Homo sapiens: one gene and its partner. The protein of the gene in region 1 purifies or fractionates together with the protein of each later gene. This does not show direct contact. Each region holds a gene or a part of one and is shown on either strand. Other genes may lie near its edges. The genes, in order: CACNA1H and KLHL1.

Evidence for each region.
Region 2: the proteins of CACNA1H (region 1) and KLHL1 purify together in Homo sapiens (affinity purification with western blotting, with the first as the bait; one study listed by BioGRID). This does not show direct contact.

The regions. Positions count from the first base shown.
Region 1 is NC_000016.10:1,218,904-1,222,389, reverse strand, and holds the end of CACNA1H (voltage-dependent T-type calcium channel subunit alpha-1H), read right to left. Parts: intron 3,421-3,486; coding exon 3,260-3,420; coding exon of another isoform or gene 3,082-3,259; intron 2,410-3,081; coding exon 1,396-2,409; 3' UTR 622-1,395; downstream 1-621. Other genes in the region: TPSG1 (tryptase gamma preproprotein), read left to right, coding at 49-194, 294-602.
Region 2 is NC_000013.11:69,703,089-69,706,589, forward strand, and holds part of KLHL1 (kelch-like protein 1), read right to left. Parts: intron 1-3,501.

The DNA of each region.
Region 1 (3,486 bases):
AGGGCCTGGTGCCCCAACCTTCTCTGAAGCCTGTTCCCCCCACCCCAGAGCCTCTGCCACCCCCGTACAGCCTGCGGGAGGTGAAAGTCTCCGTGGTGGACACAGAGACCTGCCGCCGGGACTATCCCGGCCCCGGGGGCAGCATCCTTCAGCCCGACATGCTGTGTGCCCGGGGCCCCGGGGATGCCTGCCAGGTGAGCCTGCCAGGCCGTGACAGAGGATGGGGGCGGCTGAAGCCCAGGGAGGGGCTCCCCATCTTCTCGGCTCCCAATGCTCGCCTTCTCTGTCCTCAGGACGACTCCGGGGGGCCTCTGGTCTGCCAGGTGAACGGTGCCTGGGTGCAGGCTGGCACTGTGAGCTGGGGTGAGGGCTGCGGCCGCCCCAACAGGCCGGGAGTCTACACTCGTGTCCCTGCCTACGTGAACTGGATCCGCCGCCACATCACAGCATCAGGGGGCTCAGAGTCTGGGTACCCCAGGCTCCCCCTCCTGGCTGGCTTCTTCCTCCCCGGCCTCTTCCTTCTGCTAGTCTCCTGTGTCCTGCTGGCCAAGTGCCTGCTGCACCCATCTGCGGATGGTACTCCCTTCCCCGCCCCTGACTGATGGCAGGAATCCAAGTGCATTTCTTAAATAAGTTACTATTTATTCCGCTCCGCCCCCTCCCTCTCCCTTGAGAAGCTGAGTCTTCTGCATCAGATTATTGCAACATTTAACCTGAATTTAAAAGCACACGAAACAAAGGTGTCAATGGGAATCTCGCGGCCAACGCCCCCAGATGTAGGGGAGGCCTGATTCGCATCGGGGCCGGGCGCGTTACTCCATGGGGTCGGCCCCTTAGTGAGGTGTCACCTCTCCCAGAGTCACAGGACGCTTCTGGGAAGGCCCGAGCGGAACGGAAAGGGTGGTGGCTGGAAGGGGAGGGTGGTGAGGGCGTGACAGGCGGACAAGAACTCAGACTGTGAGTGAAGGTGACATTGGGCCGCGGTGGCTGCAACCTGCCGCCGGCAAGGGCACAGGGCCCCCAGCGAGTGTCCTGTAACAACGCGGGGCCTGAAAGGACGCAACCTGGTACCTTCCCCTCTCTGGCGGGTGCCCGGTCTTCGTCCCACAGACGCGGCTTCTCTCCTGACGGGAGGCTGACCCAGTTGCCCGCACAGCCTCGGCTGGTAGCAAAACTCGGAGAAACCCGAACCAGAACGGACGGAGGCTCGTGGGGCCCGGCAGCTACTCCTGCTTCGCTGGGCAGAGAACCAGGGCCTGGGCCGTCATCCTCCCCGGGCCTTTCTGCTCACGACGGGACCCAAGTCAGGGTCCATGCAGGGTTCTGCCTGGGCCTCCACCCCAGCGGGGCCCCCAGACCCCAGGGCCAAAGCCGTGGGCGGCACCAAGCCCCGAGCTACACGGGGTCATCTGCACCACCCCCTGGGGCAGGGGTGGCTGAGGGGGACCCTGGTTTCTCCAGAGGACACTGGGGGACTGTGAGGTACAGCCCCCGCCTCTTCTCTGGGGGGTCACCGACGGGCATGGGAGGCTCTGATTCTGGGGGTTCCAGGGGCACTATGGCCCCTGAAGAGGAAGCTCTGGATTCTGGGGTCACACTGTGGCTACCGTCCAAGAAAGGGTCTCCACTGGGGACCCCGAGGTCCAGCGGCTCAAAGGCAAAGCTGGGGACGGTCAGGTGCTCAGCCCGGCAGGAGGCCTGGCCCCAGCGCTCCCCCTTGGCTGCAGGGTCCCCCCCGGCGCCTGAGCCCTCTGTGGGCTCCAGGGAGTCCCTGTGAGGCGTGGCCTCACAGGACGGGGTCCTGCGCCTCAGTGTGGTGCTGCCGCCCTCTGCCGCGGAGGGCCGCGCAGAGCCCTCGTCCTCCGCAGGGGGTTCCACCGAGATGCAGGGGGGGCTCATCTTCTTCTTTCTGCGCGCACCCAGAGCGGGCTCGGCCTCAGGGCCCCAGGCCTTCGCCTCCCCAGGCTCCCCGCTGCCCAGCTCCGCCGAGGGCCGCCACTGCTCGTCTGCCCGGCCCGGCTTGTCCAGGAAGCCCTGAGCATCCACGCTGTAGAGCCTGCGCAGGTCCCGCTCGCCGCCGGCCACCGGAGAGGCTTCGGGGCCATGGGGCTCGGCTGTGGGCTGCCAGGGGCAGGCGGAGCTGGTGATGTGGCTGACCTCCTCGTCGGCTGGGTCCGAGGCCTCGGCCTCCTCTCCGCCTGGGGCCGCCGGCCGGCTGGAGACGCAGCGCTGTCCGAAGGTATGCTTACGAGTGCGGACGCTGGCGGGCCGTGGGGAGCGTGGTGGGGACTGCAGGGAGCCCCCCTGGGTCACCGGCCTCACCGGGGTTTTCTCACCAGGCTCTGCAGGATCCAGGGTGTCCCTAGGGCTGTCAATCTTCCCTTCCAAGGAATCGGTGTGCACAGCCTCCTGTGGGGGCGTAGAGTCAAAGTGAGGGGCGGGGCCCTGGGAGAGCCCTGTCAGTGGCCAGGGCTCGGAGACCCCTCACCATCCAGGTACTGGAGAGGCCAAACTGGGCAGGTCCCCTGGGTGGCTCCTGACCCTCGAGATGGGGCTGGAAGCCGCTGGTGTGGACGTCCTAGTCTCACTCCTGACCTGTGAGGCTCCCGGGGAAAGCCTGTACCCGCTGCTCTGTGGGCAGAGATGCCATGGCCCCCAGGGGCACAGAGCTGAGGCTGAGGCCACCTCCCCACCCCTGGACATCAGCAGCCCAGCTGGGCACCCCCAGGATGGGGCTCTCCTAACTGCTCCTGTGCGGTACAGGCGTCTTGTACTGGGCAGCAAGAGGTAGGAAAGGGCAGGAAGAGGAGCTGAGGCTGCAGGTGGGCAAGGCTGGGACATCTGAACACAAGCCAGGACTGAAAAAGCCGCTGTCTGCCCACCACGGGACCCATGCCCACATGGGGCCTGAGAAACTGCCATCTGCCCGCCGTGGGCCCTGGGAAACTGCTGTCTGCCCACCACGGGACCTGAGAAACCGCTGTCTGCCCACCGTGGGGCCTGAAGCTGTGGGTCCAAGAAGACTCAGGTCCCTGTAGCCAAGAGCTCTGTAGCCACAGGCTCACAGGCCTGAAGACGCACCTGGGCCCAATGCTCCAAGATCCACCAAGCAGCAGGCAGAAACCTTCGGAGCCCCAAGGACCCAGTGCGACCCTCCTCCTGCCTTGTCCTCGTCTGCTGGTCCTTCAGATGAGACGAGGCATCCCTGCAAGCCCCCCATCCCCGCCAGCCTCTGCTGCAGGCCAACGGCTTCTCCTACCTGTCTGCAGAGCAGCCGGCTGAGACTGGGGGAGCGGGCTGTGCCCCGAGGGGACAGGGCGTGGAGGGGCTCGCCGCTCCTGGCTGGGGACGACACAGCCAATGGGATCTGGAGGGAGGCACAGGACTCTGCGGGCGGAGAGTGCACAGAGGCAACGGAGCCTGGGGCAGGGAAGAATCTAAGCTGGCAGCTCTGCCCCTGCCTTCCTGCCCAGCTGCCACCCACCC
Region 2 (3,501 bases), on another chromosome or scaffold:
AGAAGCATTTACAAAATACAGTCATGCACTGCATAGCTGTATTTTCATCCTTGAGGTTCAGGTCATGGATGAACCACATATACAATGGTGGTCCCATAAGATTATAATGGAGCTGAAAAATTCCATCGTCTGGTAATGTCATAGCCCTCTTAACATGAAAGCACAACGCATTACTCAAATGTCTGTGGTGAAACTGGTGTAAACAAACCTGTTGTACCGCTTTTTTGAAAATGGAAAAAAGCTCATAGAATAAGGATATAAAGAAAAAAAATTATACAGCTGGACAATGTGTTTGTGCTTTAATGTAACTATTACTATAAAAGAGTCAAAAAGTTTTTAAAAATTTAAGAGTTTAAAAAGTAAAAAAAAAAATTACAGTAAGCTAAGGTTAATTTATTATTAAAGAAAGAAAAATATTTTAAAATAAGTTTAGTGTAGCCTAAGTGTAGAGAGTTTTTTAAGTCTGCAGTAGCATATAGTAATGTCCAAGCCCCTCATTTTCACTCATGACTCTGTCACTGACTCACCCAGGGCAATTTCTAGTCCTGCAAGCTTCATTCAGGTTAAATAAAAGAGGTGTGTACCACTTTTTATCTTTTATACCATATTTCTACAGTACCTTTACTATGTTTAGATATGTTCGATACACAAACAAACACCATTCTGTTGCAATTACCTAGAATACTCATTACGGTAACATACTTATATAGCTTTGTAACCTAGGAGCAATAGGTTATATCATACAGCCTCAGTGTGTAGTAGGCCATACCATCTGGGTTGGTCTAAGTATACTTTGTAATACGTGCACAATGATGAAATTGCCTAAGGATGAATTTCTCAGATTGTATTTCATTTTTAAGGAACGCATGACTGTATATGTTCACAAGCCCTATCACTAAATGGAAATGGGATTATATTGGGTAATTGTATTTTTGGCAACTTTCCCAAAGGCTCCCTGATGTCCATTCAATACTCAGTACTGTGTACTGGACTACATATAGAGTGAGTAGCTTAACTTTATATCTTCATCTACATTTATACCTCTATCTCTATAGATGCATGTGTGTATGTGTGCATGTGAAAATGAATCCTTTCTGTTTTTTCAAAAAACAAAATGTGATATTCCCCTTGTGTTTCTTATGTCAGTGAATGACACCCCTCTCCATCCAGTTGTTCAAGATAGAATCCTTGACCCTTCTTTTTACCTTACTCAACTCTAAATCTGAATCAGCAAGCCCTCTAAATATCTCTCCAACAAGTTTAATTCTATCCATTTATTCAGTCTTCCACATAGCTCAGGTTACATAATGTAAACCACATCTATCTCTCAAAACTTAACAATTCTGTTTCTTGCTCAGTGAGACATACCACGTGTTCTTCCTCTGGCTCTTACCAATGATGTTCCTTAAGCCAAAGCACTCCACATATTTTCATCTGGTTAGCTATTACTCATTTGTCAGGCCTCATTCCACATATTTCCTGAAAGAAGATTTCTCTGCCCAGTGCACTTAAGTTCTATCATAGTGCTATTCTCTTACCAAATAATTAATCATGCTATTTTAAACATTTGGTATTTTTCCACATAAGTACATTTTCAATGTTTAAGAAAAGTTTTCCTTCTTTTCTCTTGGTCCAGATTTATTTAATATACATTTTTAAAAATCTGCCTTTGTTCTCCCTCCAGGGGTTGTACCTTTCAGCATGAGTAATATGATAAGCTAAAAAGGTTGGCCACAGAACCAATGAAATAAAAGTAACGCTGAATGTAGATATTTCACCAGGCTTCTCTGTAACAAAATTCTCAATATATCATTATCAATATATCTTATATATCTATTGTCTACAAATAAATGAAATGCATACACAAAAAGTACACTTAGTTGCACAATAGTTCTCAATTTATTTGAGATACATTCATATTACCTCCTACTCCCAGCCAGAAACTATACTAGTCTTTAGAGACAGGTTAATAAATGACACATTGTCTTTGATTCCTTATGACCTGTAGATGAATGCAGCATGATAGTACTATGGCAGTATACCAAGATAATACATTATTAAAGGGCAATTTTACTTAGGCTAGGAGAAATGGAATAAAGTTCTCTTTATGTCTTGAAGCACGTGCATTATTTTTTTCAAATCAAACACAAAAAATAAGCTCGGTGTTCAATGACAAAAGTCAAATTTATTTAAAACATACATAGATACACACGTGTATCTATACATATGGTGTGTGTATGCATTCTCTGTAAAACAAAAGCACAAAACTGTTAATCGATTCCTAATCTATTTCCAACTCAAGCTAAACTGAGTTTTTTTCCAAATATTCACATATTTGGATATTTTAATATAGTTTGCTTATTTAATAATCAGCCATTTGTGGCTGCTAATATTATATGGAATAACCAATTTAGTCCACTTACAGGACATATGGAGTGAAAGTGACAGGAATTTAGCAAATATGGAAAACTTTTCAAGTAGGCTAGAATCCTGAAAATTTTTAAAGGGATTTTGTGTGGGTTGGCTGCTCATCCCTTGAGAGTCTTAAAAATATAAATAATGAGAAGATACAGAAGCAAAATCTTAAAGTAACTTAACAGTTTTAAATTTAATGTTTACTGTATTAAAATAAAGTTGTTATAAAATATTTTAAATGCCACTTTGCTGTTTGTAAAATACTATATGATCCAAAAAAGTATAATAAAATACAGATGAAGGAAAATGATCTTTAGGAGTCTTTTACCTATTACTACCTACTACATATATTGTTTTGATTTCAATTTTAGAGGATGATAAGCATAATGTCTCTTTATTATAAATATGTATTCAGATATTATATTACATCATTTATATAAACATAAACTTCCTTTATTTAATGTTCTTTTAAGTGGAACATTTAAAATACACACCATTTAACTAGTACATTTCCTTAGCAAGTCAGCAATCATTAATTAATGCATGCAGGGTTTGCTTTGGAAACACTAGGGACTCAGAAAGGTACAGTCAAAATATATCCTTCGAAATTTTAGTGCAATAATGTGAAAAGCAATCATTACTTGCTTTTATTTTTTTTTTACATACAGTGCTCTCTGAATAAGAAATGCTTCTTCTCTAGCAATTAAAATGTAGAAAATAACAAGACTTAGATCTCTTGATATTTCCCCTTCTTTTCTCTACTCCTTCTTTTTACTTACTTGGCTAAATGTACCTATTTTTGGTGAAGTCAAGAGTTTTCCTTTAGAGGAGAAGAAATTCATAATGCAGATACCTTAGTCTAGCCATTAGGAATTTGGTTTTGTACTCCGAAGTTAGTCTGACTAAAAAATATTGTTGCTGAATGCATACCATCAAAACTTGCAAAATCAAGGAAATCATGTTTCATTAAAAGTAAATATCTTTAAAACAAATGTACTTTAATCAGGTGTTCAAGTTCTTTAGATAAATTGTAGTCAATTTCTTTGACCAAAATCAGATCCTTCCACCCACTGAGGCAATATGAGG